4 linked regions of the Homo sapiens genome follow. The protein of the gene in region 4 purifies or fractionates together with the protein of the main gene of each other region. This does not show direct contact. Each region holds a gene or a part of one and is shown on either strand. Other genes may lie near its edges.

The links.
Region 1: the proteins of STK17B (region 4) and ADD1 purify together in Homo sapiens (affinity purification with mass spectrometry; one large-scale study listed by BioGRID and IntAct). This does not show direct contact.
Region 2: the proteins of STK17B (region 4) and ARK2N purify together in Homo sapiens (affinity purification with mass spectrometry, with the first as the bait; one large-scale study listed by BioGRID). This does not show direct contact.
Region 3: the proteins of STK17B (region 4) and GPATCH2 purify together in Homo sapiens (affinity purification with mass spectrometry, with the first as the bait; one large-scale study listed by BioGRID). This does not show direct contact.

Annotation. Positions count from the first base shown.
Region 1 is NC_000004.12:2,898,367-2,903,315, reverse strand, and holds part of ADD1 (alpha-adducin), read right to left. Parts: intron 4,884-4,949; coding exon 4,785-4,883; intron 4,058-4,784; coding exon 3,881-4,057; intron 1-3,880. UniProt on the Homo sapiens protein: Membrane-cytoskeleton-associated protein that promotes the assembly of the spectrin-actin network. Binds to calmodulin.
Region 2 is NC_000018.10:46,239,057-46,244,005, forward strand, and holds part of ARK2N (protein ARK2N), read left to right. Parts: intron 1-948; coding exon 949-1,131; intron 1,132-4,949. UniProt on the Homo sapiens protein: AMPK substrate important for exercise capacity and skeletal muscle function.
Region 3 is NC_000001.11:217,617,119-217,622,067, reverse strand, and holds part of GPATCH2 (G patch domain-containing protein 2), read left to right. Parts: intron 1-1,568; coding exon 1,569-2,285; intron 2,286-4,949. UniProt on the Homo sapiens protein: Enhances the ATPase activity of DHX15 in vitro.
Region 4 is NC_000002.12:196,165,079-196,170,027, reverse strand, and holds part of STK17B (serine/threonine-protein kinase 17B), read left to right. Parts: intron 1-4,293; exon of another isoform or gene 4,294-4,445; intron 4,446-4,949. UniProt on the Homo sapiens protein: Phosphorylates myosin light chains. Acts as a positive regulator of apoptosis.

The DNA.
Region 1 (4,949 bases), on a different chromosome or scaffold from region 4:
GCTGAAGAGCTGTCTGCTCAACAACCTAACAGATTCGCACCTGAACCAAGTCACTCACAGCACCTTCACAATACATCACAAGAGAATCAGGACTTGGAGGGACTGCACAGGGTCAGACATACAAGACACTTCAGTGGCCTGTGCCCTGCTGGCTGTGGTACTCTAGAAACAGTCCTCTCAATTCAGAATTCTCTCTCCCCTCTGGGTACTGCTCTTTTTTGGGGGCCATCTTCATTACTAATCACTCTTTCAATATTTTTTTTATTTTTTTAATTTAATTTTTTTTTTTTGAGACAGAGTCTCACTCCATTGCCCAGGCTGGAGTGCAGTGGCGCCATCTTGGCTCACTGCAACCTCCGCCTCCCAGGTTCACACTATTCTCCTGCCTCAGCCTCCTGAATAGCTGGGACCACAGGCACGTGCCACCACACCCGGCTAATTTTTTGCATTTTTAGTAGAGACGGAGTTTCACTGTATTAGCCAGGACGGTCTCAATCTCCTGACCTCATGACCCACCTGCCTCAGCCTCCCAAAGTGCTGGGATTATAGATATGAGCCACCACGCCCGGCCTCCTTTTATTTTTTTGAGATGGAGTCTTGCTCTGTCACCCAGGCTGAAGTGCTGTGGCTCGACCTTGGCTCACTGCAACCTCTGCCTCCCGGGTTCAAGTGCTTCTTCTACCTCAGCCTCCCGAGTAGCTGGGATTACAGGCACCCTCCACCACACCTGGCTAATTTTTGTAGAGAAGGGGTTTCACCATGTTGGCCAGGCTGGTCTTGAACTCCTGACTTCAGGTGATCCACCTGCCTTGGCCTCCCAAAGTGCTGGGATGACAGGCATCAGCCATCGTGACCGGCCTACATTTTTTTAAAAAGGTAATAACAATCATGAATGGAGTTGTTTTGGGTTTTATTTTCATAATTGTCCTCAGAAAGATAAGGTAAATGTGTGTACTGGCAGTTTTCCCATTTCTGAGCATGCTTTGTTGAGGAATAATAAAAGAGAATGACTCTGCCATAAAGACTATCTGCAGAAAAACACAGTTCTTATTAATTCAAGTTTCCTTTTGCTTAAAGAGCCAGAACTCAGTAATCTCCACAACTTCAGAATAAACCACCCAGGACTCATCAACATCATTTTATCCTGAAACCATATGGATTTTTCTTTATTCTTCCCCTTTAAATGCTGTTAAACCAAAACCAGAAGTAATACTCAGACCTCAGAACTACTATCTGGCTTGTAGTTAAAAACATGGATTTGGGTCAGGCGTGGTAGTTTACACCCATAATCCTAGCACTTTGGGAGGCTGAGGTGGGAGGACTGCTTCAGCCCAGGAGTTCAACACCAGCCTAGGCAACATGATGACATCCTGTCTCTCCAAAAAAAAAAAGAAAGAGAAAATATATATGGATTTGTTCCTTCTTTGAGAAACTGAAATTATATCTTGATTTTTTTTGGGGGGGGGACAATTTAGCATTTTTTTTCTAACTGTAGAAGTTCAAATGAAATATTATCTCTCTTTTTGAAATTTTTTTATTTTTTGTGGAGAGGAATCTCGCTATGTTGCCCAGGCTGGTCTTAAGCTCCTGGTCTCCCACCTCAGCCTCCTGAAGTGCTGGGATCACAGGAGTGAGCCACTGTGCTCGGCTGCAACATATATTATAGTGTGGAAATTGGCAACTATTCTCTACTCAGTTATTAGCAAACAACATATATGCCAACCCCGATGCTAAATTAAAACATGGACTATGATTAGTGATTGCTGTCTAGTTTATTTCTTATAAACTATATGGCCTTCTAATATTAAAACAATCTGTACACATTAAGGACACTGAGTAAACATTCATCATGCTTTTTGTAATGAATGTTTTACTTATTAATCATTCATCCTTATCTTCCTTCCCTACCAAATCAGAGTTTCTACCTGATTTTGACTTCCCCCTCTCCGCCTTCTAGGATGTGCTTTCAGCACAGTCTTTGGTGGCTGCTGTGCATTCTGACCCCCCTCTCTCCTCCCTCACACTGACTGTAAGTAGAAGAGCAGCAAAATGTCGCCGTATTTACCAGGAGGCAGGGGCTGTGTGACTGGGCCAACCTCAGCCCTCCTTACCTTGCACAGCCATGCTGGATGACCTGGCTCCTGACGCACACCTGGGCCATGGCTGCCCCACTCTCAAGCTTTCTCCATCTATGAGTCCCTGCAGCTTCACTACCCTGGCTGGCCACCCAACTCTAACTGCTTCTTCAGCCTTCTTCATGAGCTTTTGCTCCTCTTCCTACCTCCTTGACCAATCGGCACCCACCTCTGCCTGCAAGCTCTCATCATGCCTATGACTGCACAGATCACAGGGGCAGGGCTCATTTGGGAATCGTTTGTCCATCTCTCTTATTAGGTCATAAACTCCTGAGGGCAAGAACTGTGTCCTGTTCATGACTCAACAGTAGACAGTCAATTAATGCAATCAACCTCACTGATTATATGAACTCAAAAAGTTACGCTAGACTCTGCCTTCTCTGTTCGTCCCTGTGTCACTGATTGAGTCTACTCCACTGACTGACTATCGCGCCCAGGCAGAAAACCCTCAGTTCCTCCTTTCTAGCGGACAATATTCATCCCAAGTGCAAAGAATTTCAGTAAGAACATTTAACATAGCCTGAATCAGACCTATGAATACTTTTTATTCCAAACCTTCAGGAAAGTTAAACTTCCTGCCTCCTGAAGCCACCCTGCTTCCTGAAGCCACCCATCTCATCTGTGATCTGGTCCAAGGGCCACGCCTGTCTTAGGCTGGAACGTGCCCACTTGTCCAGTACTGGCTGGCAGCATACAAGGATACTGGCCCCTCTGAGGCCTTCTTTCCCCACACTGACATGTCCTCACATCTACACCACTTGAGGTCATGTGGCGTTAGGACGGACCATCGTGACCCCCATCTAAGAGGTCTGATGTGCAGCATGGAAGGGATCTGTTCCAGAGCCCTGTGTCTGATGATGTGGCTGCGGGACTGAGACCCCAAGGGCAGTGTTCTAATACAGCTCTAAGAACTGAGTATTTAATGATCCTGGTAAAGTCAAGATGAACCTGAAAGGTGCACCGTACGTTGCATGTTCCCATCTCCCCACTCCCATTGTCTGCAGCTGTGCTGTGGCCTCTTCATCCTGTCATCCTGTTTTTTTCCAGGCTTTCAAACGCAGGCTAAGATCCTACCTATTCTTTGAGGTCATTTCCAAGGGCTACCTTCCACATAAAATTTTCTCTCCAGTCCTTGCAAAAGAATGAAATTCTTCACGGCAACCCTGTAACACAGAACACATCCTGTGTGTCTGCCCTCCTATCACAGTGTGGGCTCACTTTCCCTGTGTGCTGCAGGCCCCATAAGCCCGCCTTCTGGACCATGCCGGGCTCTGTGTCCCTGCAATAAGCAGCTGAGGGGCTCCCACGCTGTGGACAGGGAGTGGATACCCATGGAACACAGTCATCAGGCCCCAGACAGCCAGGATTTGCTGTTAAGACAAAAGCCTAAATACCTGACTGACCGATTTCAAAAGTGCCACCTCTCTCGCTTGCTTGTGGGATGGTGGGGACTGAGCTGACACAGCTGGTCATCCAGCTGCCTACGCATTCTCTGTGCTCTTGTCCCCACTGAGTCCAAACACAAGGTTATCTTTAAAAAATAAAACAATACCAGGAATCCTTCACCTCTACATTTTATTGTAATTTACCTCAGAAGTTAAACAACCCTAGTGCTTCTTCATGACTTTGAAGGTGAAGGTATTCAGATACTGCATAAAAGACAGCAATCGCACTTGCTGTAAGAACACCAACACTGATGCTTTTAGAACAAAAGGTTTATCATCAAGTGGTGGCACCATTCTTACCAGATTATCGAGCATCCGCATGAGGGCTTCAAATTCCTGCTCACCAATCTGCCACTTGGGAGGCGATCCAGTGCCTTCCCCTACCGGAGACCCTGGGGAACGGGACTTGGCTTTGTACTTCTCAGGATTCAGCAGGACTAAGTTGTCTGGTCCTCCTGCACTGGCCAGAGTTCGAACCTTTTCCAAAACACACACAGCATGGCTTGAGTTCCTTACTGAGATCAAGAGGGTCAGATGACTTGAATAAAAATGTAGGTTTCAAAAGAAACCAAATCTCTAGAGTGTAAGAATAAAAAATGTAGAATGGATAGTGACAGACTGATCACAAAGTTACTTTCAGAAGTATTTCTTTAGCATGACAAAAATATTGGGCACCAAAGTTGGCAGAGAAATGAGAAAACACAGCACCTTTCAGGATCCTACAAAGGACTTGGGACTTCACTACGCCACAGACATAAGTCAAGAAGCAGAGGGGAGAACGTGAACTAACGGCTGACGGAGCGGAGGGGAACTCACAGCTGTAAGCTGCAGGCAAGTCTCTGAGTCTCTACTTCTGTATACCTGCTTTTTCAAAGAGTACTGTGGGGGTCACGTGACATCACATATGCGATGACACACACTAAGCACCTGATGCCAGGCCTATACACACCAGTACTCCATAAATGGTAGTGACTGACATATTTGAAAATTTAAAAATTAGAAATGAAAAGCCCAGTAATCCTTTGCCAACTTCAATCAGTGAAACAGCATTTGTCCTGATCAAGTCCCAAATCCATGAGCTTATCTTTGGCAAAGAGATTGCTCAAAGACTCCTCTCCTACTCGATAAGTATCAAAAAAAAATCTATGTGAACCCCAGACACATCTAAATAAACTGCAGAGTGACTGGAATGGCTGTCCCCTACCTGGATCTCACAGGCAACCACAAGGTTATGGATGTAATAGAAGGCCTCCTCAACGCTCTCTCCAACTGACACGAGCCCATGGTTCCGGAGAATAAGAACCTGAGGGGAAGCATGAATGCTCTGTGGAGCTGGGCAGGAAGACTGGTCCTTTGCTTTATTCTTCTT
Region 2 (4,949 bases), on a different chromosome or scaffold from region 4:
AAACTTTATGTTTGCTTTTTGCTGTTAACGTTTTTCTTAAAAAAGGGGTAGAATTAGCATTTTAAAGCATGTATCTATTCTACAAGCATGAATATTGACTTATTTTAGCATGAATTGCTGCAGTGTAATTAATTTACTTTGAAACTCAGCTGCCTTTTTCAGCCAGTTAGGGGGATTTGAGGGTGGAAGGGTCCTCTTCCAGTAAGAACTTCAATATTTTCTTGTAAAATCACCCATAAGATTGCATATTGTTTAGTTGGAGTATGAGCTGGTTGTCTTTCTTAAGGAAAAGGAAATAGAAATATCCCTCATAAGATATCCAAAGCAAAATCCTGAAAATGGATTTGTTGTATTGTCTTTTTACAGAATGTCATAAAGTGTATAACATCCCTGTTTTTATAAAAGGACTTTACTGGAAATAGATATGTTAGTCAAACAGAGCTCTAGTGTTAACCTTATTTCTTTAGGACATAGGAAAATATATTTGATTTTCTTTTCTGAATCTACTAGAGACTTTTTATATTACCCAGTAAGAGAAAGAACTAGATTCATTCTTTTAAAAAATATAAATTGGGTTTTAATAATTTGCATCAGTTTTTTCCTTTAAGAAATCAGTTCCACTTTCTCTGTGGAGTCATCCTTTTTTTCTTAATCTTGCTCTTTAAAAGTATGACAGGAATTCAGTGTAACATTGTTGAGTATAGTCTTGTCTTCTGTTCTTCATAGTAACACTCCTTTTCCTCCTTCCAAAATGTGTCCATCATCTTTGTAAGCTTGGATTATCTTTTTCACTTTCACATTTTGTACAAAATATTAGATCTATAAAGTGCAGCTTTTCTGATGAGATAGAATAATGAAGGCAACTGACATTAGAGGGCTCTTACTAGTTTCAGAAGTATTTTTCACCCCACACGTTAGATACAAGTATACATTTTCTTTCCTCCCTAGATGGACCTCCAGTTGTAGCTCATTATGATATGTCTGACACCAACTCTGACCCAGAAGTGGTAAATGTGGACAATTTATTGGCGGCTGCAGTAGTTCAAGAGCACAGTAATTCTGTAGGCGGCCAGGACACAGGAGCTACCTGGAGGACCAGCGGGCTTCTAGAGGAGCTGAATGCAGAGGCAGGTTGGTCTTCCCCATCCCCCTTCTCTAACGGTGTAATATGCATGTGTCCTGGAGCTGTTTTCCTTGTAGTGGACCCTGATGAGGAGAACAGGTCATACCAGAGACATCTGGCATTGAATGATTGGTTGTGACTATCCAGGCTGCCATTTATACCTGAAACAATTTGGATAGCTTGTCATTCATCTTTCCTACTCAGAAGGAAGTAGAAATAAGAGCATTTAAGACATTAATTGTAGGTATTGGTAGGTTTCAGTAGGCATATTTCTTGGATTAAAAATGCCCAATATTTGCAAAAATGACCCAGATATGCTCATATTCTTTGGCCAGTTCTTTCTCTCACTTTAATTCTGGGTAGTGACCTTGCAGCTTGGATAGGGAATCGTTGAATCTCTCCCTGTGGGGCTGGCTGTTCATACACAGCGCTGCCGCTGTTTCTTGTGCTTCTTGCTGTGGAGTGACCCTGTTAATTCCTCGTCAGTAAGTTCTCATTTGTCTTTTCTAACTCCTTTCTTTTAGTTTCTGTCTCTGTTAGCTCAGGAAAAAAAATCTCTGTCCCTGTCTTACATTTTTTTAGTTTTGTGATTATTCTTTAAGGTGGTATTTATTCACTAAAAAATCCACTGCTGTTACCTTTGAAAAACTTTCACAATACCTCCAAGTCTTCTTCAATATTTTCTTCAAAAGTTTCTTTCAGCATTCTAATTTAAACCTTGTTTTGTTGTTGTTGTGAAAATACTAGCACTGAACATTTAAGAAGAGAAGGGGATTGAGAGACTGCTTATGCAGTGTATAATTTCTTCAGTGTTGCTGAAAGATTATAGTTTTCTAGTTAATTTATAAATGCATTGGTTTTATGAGTTAATCTAATAGTTTAATCACTACCTAAAGTTATTTTTATGAAAAATGAGTTTTACAAAAAAATGAGTTATAGTTTAGAACTTTTTATATTGAGACAGAACTCCATTGATTGTTGTTGTCTTAAATTATTCCTTTCATAATCTTTGATTGGAATTACAGAAAAATCACTTGTTTGTTGACCTGATTGATTTACTGTAGCTAATTTTGGAACTGAACCTGAATTTAGTTTTGATTTTTTTTGACTGGTAACTGCTGCCTGTTTGTCCTTGGACCAGTTGTTTCTCCTCTGGACTTCAGTTTTTATATGTATAAATCCTTGTTTTGCCCAACAAGTGTCTTTTAAGGATTTATTAATATGTATTAATACAAATACTTTGAAAAGAAGTAATAATGCTTCTGGGCACAGTGGCTCACGTCTGTAAGCCCAGCACTTTGGGAGGCCGACGTGGGAGGATCACTTGAGGTCAGGAGTTCAAGACCAGCCTGATCAGCATGGTGAAACCCCGTCTCTATTAACAATACAAAAATTAGCTGGGCGTGATGGGTGTGGTGGTGGGCGTGGTGGTGGGCGCCTGTAATCTCAGCTGTGGAATTGCTTGAACCTGGGAGGCAGAGGTTGCAGTGAGCTAAGATTGTGCCACTGCACTCCAGCCTGGGTGACAAAACTAGACTGTATCCCCCCAAAAAAGAAAAAAGAAGTAATAATGCTTTATATCAGTGGAAAGTAGTTTGGCCACATTTTGTACAATATGTGTTTCTAAGTTATTTATTTATTTATTTATTTATTTGAGATGGAGTTTCGCTCTTGTTGCCCAAGCCAGAGTGCAATGGCGCGATCTCAGCTCACTGCAACCTCCGCCTCCTGGGTTCAAGCGATTCTCCTGCCTCAGGCTCCTGAGTAGCTGGGATTACAGGCGCGCACCACCACGCCTGGCTAATTTTTTGTAGAAATGGGGTTTTACCATGTTAGCCAGGCTGCTCTGGAACTCCTGACCTCAGATGATCCGCCTGCCTTGGCCTCCCAAAGTGCTGGGATTACAGGCGTGAACCACTGCACCCAGCCTTGTAATTTGTATATTAGATGGTTTATCTTTGTTTTTCATCCTTTGGCAATTAAGTCATCCATTCCACTTCAGTTTTATTTCTCTGTTTTCTGAGTCTTGCCGTTAAATATAGACCATTTTATGGTAAAGTTTTGGGGTAAAAAATGAATGATTACCAACGTTTTGCTCTTCATATGCAGAATTCTTAATATTAGATTGAACCGTATGGAATTGTTAATATTTGACTTTTTGACCTACAAAAAATCAGCCATTTCTTATGACTTGACCGAATAATGCAAAGTTTGCGGTTTTAAAATATCATTAAAGTTTAGCTTTTGGGATGGCATTCACATTTTCAGATTCAAGTAATTGTTAGCCTATTTAAAAATCACTCTTAAGAAACTACAACCATTCTTTTTAAGAAATAAAACGTGGTAAAAGTATGTGAGGAGGAAAACAACTGTGGCTTCAGATGTTTTCCTTCCCTTTGCCCTTCCCATGCCAAAGCTATCCTAAATTGGATATTTAATGTGTGGTATTCCTGTGTATTTCTTTATATATTTGTACTACATTTGTTATATATCTAAATAAGCATGTTTTTAAAACTAATTGGTATCACATTGAAGGTAATCATTTGAAATGTGCTTTTTTAGTTAAACATTTTATGAGTTTTGTTGTTGTTATGTGTGGCTCTAGTTCATTCATTTTCCACTGCTATTTAGTATTCCACTATATGAATATATCACAATTTACCCATTCTCTTGTTGGACATTTAGGGTGCTATTTTAAGTGATACTGCTCTTAACATTTCTTTATGTGTTTTTTGGTATATGTATATGATAATTTCTCTAGGATATAATTAATATATAGAGAGAGCATTTGTGCATATTGGACTATAAATTTTGTGTAGGTTTCTGTATATCATAGGATGCAGTCACCACTGCTCAGCAGATCCCCATGACATTTTGTTATGAAGCTTATTGGCTCTTTCAAAGGCATTTTTTTTTCTTAAATCTGACAATACTGGTATGTGGGTAATAAATAAAAATAATACTGTAGTCTTGATGTGATTATCATAGTGGAACTCATCTTGTGAAGATATCTGAATGTGCTTACAGTGTCTCAATAAAATATTAATAGAATTTATGCTTAGGAGCCAGTTAATAGTTTTGAGGCTTGGACTATTAGTCAGATGGTCATTCTTATGGTGTGAGTGTAAGTTAAAATTTTAATGGTTAATCTGGGTCCTGTCTTTCCCTTTCACAACAAAATAGCAAGCCTAGTTATTGAGCAGACTATTCAGGGGTTCACTTTAATCAACAGCAGCATCTCAACCCAGGTCCACAGCCCCATCCCATTTAGGATCACATAGGTACGCACTAAAGATAGAGTAGGTTGCCTTTTTCCAAGCAATTAGATGATTATCTTGCATCCAAAATATATATTTAGTTTTAGTTTTAACCTAGGCAAAAGACTTGAACCACATGCAGGGATTAAAAAGTAAGTCGAAATTAGAGAAGCTACTGATCAACAAAAGACCTGAATTTTCCATTTCAATTCTTGCCATGTGTTTGCTTTTTTTAAGTTGATGCTGGAATTGAACACTGTAGTGGGTGATTTTGAACCAGTGGCCACTTAGAAACTGCATGTCCTCAGGTAAATTATATAAAGCCTCAGTTTTCCCTATCTACAAAACTGGGGCACAACCTTTATAGTATCTACTCCAAAAGGTTATTGTTACCACTAAGTGAAATACAGTGTGTTTACTACGGAGGACAGCACATAGTAGGCCCTCAGAAATGCTAACCAGCATTATGTTAATATGCTGAAGTAGACTGAGTAAGGAAGTGATTAGTGGCTCAGTCACTGGATTTCTAATTACTCTCTTGCACTGCAACGAGTTGCTCTTGCTACAAG
Region 3 (4,949 bases), on a different chromosome or scaffold from region 4:
ATCTTGGCTGTAGTTTGGTGAACATTGGAGCTCTGGAACCTGATTGCTGGAGTTTGAATCCTGTCTCCACTACTTAGACGCATCACATTGTGACAGAGATCTTTCGGCCTTTGTGTATTTCATCTCCCACCTCATAGGGTTGTTGTGTGAGAATGAAATGAAATAATATATGTAAAACACTTAGAAATGAGCCTGGCAAATAGTAAATGCGCAAATGTTAGAAGCTGTTTGTATGCATCACATTATAAATGGCAAATCCAGTTGAATCACAATGTGTGTTGTTTTTAGGTTATTAAAATGAAACGACAAAAGTTGAAAGCTGTTATAAGGAACTTGCAAAAGCCTGAAATTATTGACTGTTGGAGACTATACATGATTGTAGAGACTATATAGACTATGGGTCAGCAAACTATAACCAGCTATAACCTGATTCTATAAATAAAACTTTATTAGAACACAGCCATACCCATTTATTTATGTATTGCTTGTGGCTATTTTTGCATTATAGTGGCAAGTTGAGTAGTTTTGGGAGACCCAATGGCCTGCAAAGCCTAGAATATTTACTAGCAGGCCAGTTACATAAAAGCCTACTCCTGCTGTAGGCTCTAGAAGCTCTGTATGACTGTTGAGAATATTTCAATCCCTAGGTGCCTCTAGATCTCGATTTTAGAAATGATTGCCTGTGGTCTTCATAAGACGGGTGCAAATCTGAATTGCCTGTGATGTTTAAAAAATAAAACCAGATACCTTGGCTGTATGTCACCCCAACTAATTTAAAATCTTTGGGAATTGGGTTTTAAAAGGACAGGTATAATTTATAAAAATTCCCAAAGAATGCTTATGCTTATTCTTGCTGACTACTGGATAATTTTCATACTGGTAATATAGTTTAATGCTCTTAAAAAAGGAAAGCCTAAGAGATTGCTTCAGAATGAAGTAATGATGGGCCCTTTGAAACCAGTGAGGCTCCAATTTGAATGCGAATGTAGTTTGTGCTTCACTGGGTTAAGAGATTAGTGTGGCCTAAATAAATGCATGGTGTTGGTTAAACTTTCACGTATATTACTAATCCTGAAACTACCTGTCTGTCTTTCTAACTGCCTCTTATATGACAGTGACTGGTTAGGGCACGTGGTGAATAGAAGATTTCATGTTTCTTTTTTTACTTAGAGATTAGTGGGCGAAGAGGGGACTGAGAAAGTTCTTTCTGTATCTGCTGTAGGAAAACTGGCTCTAGAAAAGGGGTAGGAGTGGGCCAGCGGATAGGGATTTAAACAGAACTTTTCCATAATTATACAGAAAAATATAAAAATACTGGGATCTTTCATTGCTCATAAGCTTATTCTATCTTGGAAGTAATTCCTATGTTTAATAAAAGAACTTATATAAGAAGAGGCCTAAAATGAATCAATATTTAAAACTGTAATATCTTGGATAGGAAAATTAGCTTTGAAACATTTTGTAATCATTAATTTTTGTCGAATTTAGAATGAATTGTCTGTTATAGAAAATGAGGTTACTGTGGTTAAGACTGACTATTTTCTTTTTTCTTTCTCTAAAAAATGAAGGCATTTCAGTAGAACCATGGAGGAGCTGGTTCATGACCTTGTCTCAGCATTGGAAGAGAGCTCAGAGCAAGCTCGAGGTGGATTTGCTGAAACAGGAGACCATTCTCGAAGTATATCTTGCCCTCTGAAACGCCAGGCAAGGAAAAGGAGAGGGAGAAAACGGAGGTCGTATAATGTGCATCACCCGTGGGAGACTGGTCACTGCTTAAGTGAAGGCTCTGATTCTAGTTTAGAAGAACCAAGCAAGGACTATAGAGAGAATCACAATAATAATAAAAAAGATCACAGTGACTCTGATGACCAAATGTTAGTAGCAAAGCGCAGGCCGTCATCAAACTTAAATAATAATGTTCGAGGGAAAAGACCTCTATGGCATGAGTCTGATTTTGCTGTGGACAATGTTGGGAATAGAACTCTGCGCAGGAGGAGAAAGGTAAAACGCATGGCAGTAGATCTCCCACAGGACATCTCTAACAAACGGACAATGACCCAGCCACCTGAGGGTTGTAGAGATCAGGACATGGACAGTGATAGAGCCTACCAGTATCAAGAATTTACCAAGAACAAAGTCAAAAAAAGAAAGTTGAAAATAATCAGACAAGGACCAAAAATCCAAGATGAAGGAGTAGTTTTAGAAAGTGAGGAAACGAACCAGACCAATAAGGACAAAATGGAATGTGAAGAGCAAAAAGTCTCAGATGAGCTCATGAGTGAAAGGTGACTTTTATATTCTCTAAATATAAAAATATTTATCTCCAGTGTTTGTGGTTGAATGTTTTATATTTTAATTAATTCTATTTTAAAATAATTATAAATTGTAATAATGATAGTGATATTACTGTTTAGCTATGGTTATATTTCCTTATACTTTATGATGTTTAGCACAAAGCAAAATTGCTTGTTTGATTTACACAAAGTCTTTTGATTGTATTATAATGACTCAATTTTCAGCTACAAGGAGGAAAGGAAATGGATTTTCAGTGGAAAAGAATGTGCTTTTGAATAACAGCACGTTTGTAACTCAGAATTGGATATATAATTATATGTTTAATTATAGACCTTTAGCTTTTGGTACTTTATAGAGTGTCACAATTCATTAATCTATCCTGATTCTTGAACATCAAAAGTTTATACCACTTCGACATGTCTGTGGCTTGACATAAAAAATCTGGAGCTTTCTAGGAATTCTGATCACTTATGAATTTTAAAACCCAATTTATAGTCTAGAAACACCTGGTTTTGTCATTAGAAAAATAGGAAAAACAATGGTCCTGTGGTAGTAAATCTAATCTGTCAATAATTGTTAAGTACTATTTTGACAGCATCAAAAGGTAAGTGATCATTTTTCTTTTATACTGAAATGATGAAGTGATGCTACTTGCAAGAAATGAGAATGTATTAACACTTTTTCCTTTTAGGCATGGGTCCGCAAAACCGAATGCTGAACTATGAGCCAGAAAAAAACAGTCTGTAAATATGGCCTGAGAAAGAGTAATTGATTTTTAATTTATAGGGCTGCTATCTTTTTTTTTTTTTCGAGATAGAGACTCACTCTGTTTCCCAGGCTGGAGTGCAAGGGTGTGATCTCAGCTCATTGCAACCTCCACTTCCTGGGTTCAGGTGATTCTCCTGCCTCAGCCTCCGGAGTAGCTGGGATTACCTGTGTGCACCACCATGCCTGGCGAATTTTTTTTGTATTTTTAGTAGAGACGGGGTTTCACCATGTTGGCCAGGCTGGTCTTCAACCCCTGACCTCAAGTGATCCACCCACCTTGGCCTCCCAAGGGCTGGGATCATTTTAATCATGTGAATTGTGGTGAGCTATCAATCTTTTATTTGGTTTTTATTTTTTATTTTGTTTTTTTGGGGTTTTTTTGCTTGTAAATGAGTGGGACCTGGTAAAAGTTTATGGAATTATCCTTTTATTAGACATGGTGTGCTAGTCATATAATTTTTCTAAAGAAGTAAAAATTACTTACATTAAAAAATTGTGGCTGAGCATGGCGGCTCATGCCTTTACTCCCAGCACTTTGGTAGGCTGAGGCTGGTGGATCACCTGAGGTCAGGAGTTTGAGACCAGCCAGACCAGTATGGTGAAACCCCGTCTCTAGCAAAAATAGAAAAATTAGCCGAGTGTGGTGATGTGCGCCGAGTCCCAGCTACTCAGGAGGCTGAGGCAGGAGAATTGCTTGAACCTGGGAGGCGGAGATTACAGACATCCAAGATCGTGCCACTGCGACAGAGCAAGACTCTATCTCAAAAAAAAAAAAAAAAAAAAGTTTCCAGAGGGCTTTGAAAAGTTTATGGTATCTGTTTTTCTTGCAAGAAAATTGTCATTCTTATATGGAAATAAGTATTATTTGTATTAGGCCATTGTGACTTAAGACCATTCAACCTTACTTGAAAGTAATTGTCTGACTCAATTACCGGGAGGGAGAGTATGTGGCAGCTGATATAACATACTCAATTCTGGATTATTTACAATTAGATTACCTGCTTTTTGGATTCATTGTGCAAGCTCCCCCCCTTTTTTTTAGTTCTCCTTTTATTGATCTGCTTTTTTATAGGACATGTAACTGGTAATGGATATGAGATCAAACTCTCATTTTTCATTTCTTTTCATTGTAAAAAGTATTTGAGTATCTACTAGGCATGAACAGGCTACCTAGCAGTCCACAAACAGCCCAGGTACACGTTTTCAGAGTATGTTTTTACTCTTGAATAAATGTTAAAAAATATATTTTCTCTGATTTGAAACTTATTTATAAACTATTTTCTGTTGTCACTTAAAAGTTAGGTGCAAATTCCTTCTGTGCAAAGATTGCTAAATATTTAAGGTATTTTGGTAACAAGTATAAGCGTTTTCAAGACTACTTCCAAAGCTTTCCTACTACAAAAAGCTTTATATTTCCTTGGGGTTGATTTATAAATAAGAGAAACTTCAGTGTGGGGGGCTGTGTGTGTGTGTCAGATTTAACAAACATTGATGATTAACTACAATTTACTCTTCACTGGTGGCACCTGGACTAATAATGGAGACTCTGTTCTCAACAGCTGCATAGTCTGGGATAGCCAGGCAAGCAAATGATGAAAATGAAATGTGCTGAGTGGAAAGTATTAGTGAGGGAAGACTTGCTAAGGGAACTGTGCTTTAAAGCAAGTAGTAAGACTTGTTCAGGAATTGAGGAAGTCAAGAGAAGAGAGGGAAATGGCATTCATAGGTAGAGAGGGAGCAGCTTGTGCAAAGGCATGAATTGTGAAATGAAAATACATACTTTGTTTTTACCGGCAATAAAGTGGGATCAGAATTACAGCAAAAAGCATTTCTCAGAGGTCTATCTGCTATGGTAAATAGTTTGGATTTTATCATCTTATAGTCAA
Region 4 (4,949 bases):
TAAACTCATCTGCCTCGGATCCTCCTCCTCTGAGCAGATGCTCAATTAAACTTTTTCTAGTATCTTAATAATTGGAGGTATTAATAGATGTTTTATTTTTGAGATACATATTGTACATTTTAGATCTTTTTTTTTTTCTAAAGTAGGGATCCAAAATTGAGGTGAAATATATTTGCTTACATGGCAAGACTTTTTAAAAGTAGAATTTCTGTAATTGAAGACCATCCTTTTTTGTGTGTGAATAGAATGGTTGCGGTTTCTCTTGGGATCATTGATTAGTGAATTACGATTTGGTTAAGATAGAATGCGTTTTTAGGAAGTTGGAGGTTTGACTAATCGCTGTGTTAGCATATGAGTAACAAATTTGAAGAAGATACAAGCATTTTTATGGCTGACGTTTCTAATCAGATAATTTTATTTTTAAGCTTGCTCTGTTTTACTTTTGTTAAGTGAACATTTTAACATGTTTTAAAGCTCTTTGATAATTATAAGGGAGAATTTCCTTATGAAAATATTTTTGCTTTAATTTTAGAGACACAAGAAGTCAAGGAATTCAGTTAATAACACTTTCACTTAATCGTTAAATTGCCTTAAAATTGCATGCATAGTATATTGTAATTCACATTTTCTGTATGTAAGATTGGCAGTTAAGAATAGTATTCTGGCCGGGCGCAGTGGCTCAAGCCTGTAATCCCAGCACTTTGGGAGGCCGAGGCGGGCGGATCATAAGGTCAGGCGTTCGAGACCAATATGGTGAAACCCCGTGTCTACTAAAAATACAAAAATTAGCCGGGCATTGTGGCGCGCGCCTGTAGTCCCAGCTACTCGGGAGGCTGAGGCAGAAGAGTTGCTTGACCCGGAAGGCCGAGGTTGCAGTGAGCCGAGATCACGCCACTGCACTCCAGCCTGGGCAACAGAGGGAGACTCCGTCTCAAAAAAAAAAAAAAAAAAAAAAAAAATAGTATTCCTAGGCTTACTACTTTTAAAGGATACTGATTGATTCTTCTTTTCATAAAGAAATCTTCTGCACTGTATGGGTATTTGTTTTGTCAGAAACATTAGCAGTCATTTATCTACTACCTTTCCACTTAGGAAAACTTCAAATGTCAGTTGCTTTAGTTTTTCATAATATTGATGACAAAATTCAGTGATTTTATGTTTAAGTACTGTAGTTTGTATTCTATGCTGGGCTGTTATCAAAGGCTATTTCTTTGAATATTTCAGTTAAGAAATGTTCTTATAAAGTTACAAGCATGTATTTTTATTTAAATATGTTGTAATGTTGCAATTTTCAGGGCATACTTTATTAAGTTTTTTATTATCCTTTTTCCAGAACATTTAACCTCAAACTTCAGTGCCATTTAAAACATATATATTAGTTTCTTTTAATATTTATATGCATTGTATTTTGGTTCATCCCTGACCCTTTGCAATTACTCCAAAAGAGGGTGTAGTGATACTGTAAGCATTGAAAAATTTTAACAGTGAGATGGTAATTTCCTCTTTAATCCTTAAAGGCAGATTCCATTTTGCATTGTAATAGTTACTGAATAAATAGTACTTAAGCGGTGCTATTAAGTAAACAATATTTTACAACAGAAACCCAATTTTCCGTCTTGTGAGTGACAAGCACCATGCATTTGTTGCCCACCCCGGAATCCCCCACTCTATTTCCGTTTTTCAACCTTTTATCCTGGTTCACAATTAACAGGTTTAACTCTTTTTCTGGAGGTGGGAAGACACAGCATTAGGCCTTAGGGTCTTGGCACAGAGTCAGGCCTAGGAGTCATTGCCTGACACTTCAGCCCTTGGATAGTATATACTAGAATGGTTGGATTAGAGTTAGTTTAGCTGACTTCCTATTGTGATTTTTAGAGGATTAAGTTTATGAATTATATTTTCTGTTCAAAATATTTTAAAAAACAAAACCTGTTGGCAGAATACATATGAGGAATATAATCTCTTCCTTGAAATTGAAAATCATCATCATTTCCATCTTGATACCAATACTTCTAATCAATGACTAATTAAAAACACATACTTCTGCCACACCAGGAGAAAGTTCTTCCTTTACTTTTGATGGACGTTAAATCTCTTTTTCAGTTTCCTAGGGAAAGCTTGCTAGCAGTAAATGCCTTAAATGCCTATGTAGAAAGGAGTTGCTTCCCTTAGAATCTTCGGGCTTACTTTGCTTCCTGTTGCCTTTCCAATGTACTTCATGATGATCTAGACTTATCAGTGATAAATCTTGATAGGACACTTACCTGAATCTCCTGATTTTTGGAGGCTCTTAAAAGAGTGATGTTCTTAACTGCAGTAGGTATTTGTATTAGTAGCTTATATTAAAAACAAGTAGCCACCTTGTCTGGAAACAGTGGTAAAAACAAAAGGTCTATTGGCATTACATTATAGTATATGACAAAATAATTTTATCTGTGTTTCCAGACTTTGTGGCTACCTGTTTAGAACTGACATTTTGTAAGTGCAATTTAAAATAGTTACTTTATTTGTCCAAATGCTGAATTAAGCAGAGACTAGCTGCATTCAGAGCTCCAGTACTGTAAATTCAAGATGGATCTCAAGTTCTCCTAACCCCTCGAAGACATGAGATATACCTACAAATTCTTTTTTCTATATCTCATAATTCTTACAATTCAGTTCATCAAACATTTTTAAAATTCCTACCGGGTGGCAGATACCATGCTGGTTGCTTAGGCACAAAAGTAAAAGGATGCTGCCCTTTAAACACTGAACAGAATTGCAATCTAACATGTTACATTTTGAGGTAAAGAAGTATGCCAAGGATCCTCTTATTTGAAGCATAAAGGAGAAGCCTTTAAATCAGCCTGTGGTTTTTAGGCAAAGCTTCCTGGGGGAGAGGCCATTCTGTGTTGAGTTTTGAAGGATGTGTAAGAAGAGTTAGCCATTTAAGGAAAGTAGAAAGGCTTTTTCAGGCAAAGAAGTATAACAAAGATGTGGTGGCAAAATATGAAATATGAGTGCGGCAGGAAATGTAGCTGGTGTATACTTGGCCTCAGAGGCCTTTATGTGTCATGCTGTAAGTACTTGAAAGCTTGTAGATACTGGGGAGCTAATGAAGGAATCAAAACAGACAATTTGATTTTCTAAATGTCTTTATTATTGTATATTCTATTTTTTAAAAACTTTCTTATTTGATAATTTTGAAATAAATATCATGATAAATACTTTTTAAAATAGAGCTAGAGGTTTATAGAGATAGTCTTGCTTTTGTTCACATCACACTTGCTTTCTGCATTCAAGTAAGTGAAGGCCCAGATCAAGCCTAACATTTCCTTCTTTTCCTTCCTTCACTGATCTACTTCCAAATTCTTTTGGTAATTATTATAATGAGAATTAATGAAAAAAATCTTTAAAAATAAGTGAGATACCATTATTTGTAGTAGTACTGTGTGATTAAAAGCTTAATTGTGTCTTACCTTCTATTACACTTTTTATAGGATCTAATCGTGTATACACATGCATATAAATTTACTTACCAGGTCCCTTAAGATTTTTTTTAAATGCTATAACCTGATAAAATGTTATGAAATGAATTTCAAATGGAGTGAGACATATAGGTAATTTAGAATCGGTAATATGAAGTGTGGTAGAAGACAAGAAAAGGCCTGGGAATTGTTGGAGTTAAAGAGAATTTGGTGGGAAATTTAGGAAGATACAAGAAGGAGCGACAGAGAGCTGACTCATAACCTGCATGTACCTTATATGAAGGGCAACCAGATGTTTGAGGAGGGCTTGGTGGACAAAGGTGACATTCATGCTCCACTATATGCAAAACTGGCCAAAGGAGAGGAAATGGAAAAATATCTTGGCTCTGACAATTGGTTCAGATGCAGTAAATAAAAGGAAAATGAACTTAAGAAATGCTTAATGGATGCCTAAAGCAGCTTGTGATGTAGGTATATTTTTAATAAATAGATGAACTTATGAGGAAATTGGTACCCATATTGATCTTTCAGAACAATGGAAAAAAATCAGTGAAACTGAGCGCTATCAGAACTAAGAAGATACATAAGTAGTTAAAACAGAAAACAAAAATACTTTTAAGAATGAAGTTTAGACTAAGTTGGGATGAGAATTTTGTACATGGAAACAGTACAGCTGTTCAACAATGGCAGGGAACTGCAGGGAGAGTATTTTTGGGTAGAATGTTAATTTTGTTTTGTGGAACAATAGCGATATGCCCTTGTGACTTGCACTGTACCTGTGTCAGTGGACATGAGTTCAGCATATTTTAATTTTTAATCCTTGCAGCACTGGAAGATCAATTCTTTTATCATCCATACTTTAGAGGCAGCAAAATCGAAGCTTTCTTCACCAGTAAAAGGGAATGCGAAGTAAATCACAACAAAATTCCATTTCACCTTCATCACACTAGAATAGCCAAACTTAAAAGTCTGAATTGGGCAAGTATTGTCAAAGTAGTGATAAACCGTCCCATCCAGTGCTAGTGGGAGTGTAAACTGGGGGTGGAAAGAAGGGGCTATGTCTAATATGTTTTATTTTTAATTTAAATGAAATATGACCAAGTAATAAGATTGGAAAGTAAATGTTTGTATATAGTGTTCCTTATCTTACATTTGAAATATTATATATTTTGTTTTCTTTTTAAATAACTGTGTTGCCGCAGATCAGGCGACTTAACAGAAGTATATTTTCTCAACGATTCTGGAGGCTAGAAATCTGGGATCAGGGTGTCTGCGGGGTTGGTTTCTTCTGAGGCCTGCCCTCTTGGCTTGTAGATGGCTGCCTTCTCCTAGTGTGTTCACATAGTCTTTCCTCTGTGTGTGTCTGTGTCCTAATTGGCCCACTTTAATGACCTCATTTTAACTTAATCACCTTTTTAAAGGCCCTGTCTCCAAAGACAGTCACATTATGAGATACAGGGGTTAGGGTTTTTCAACTTAGGA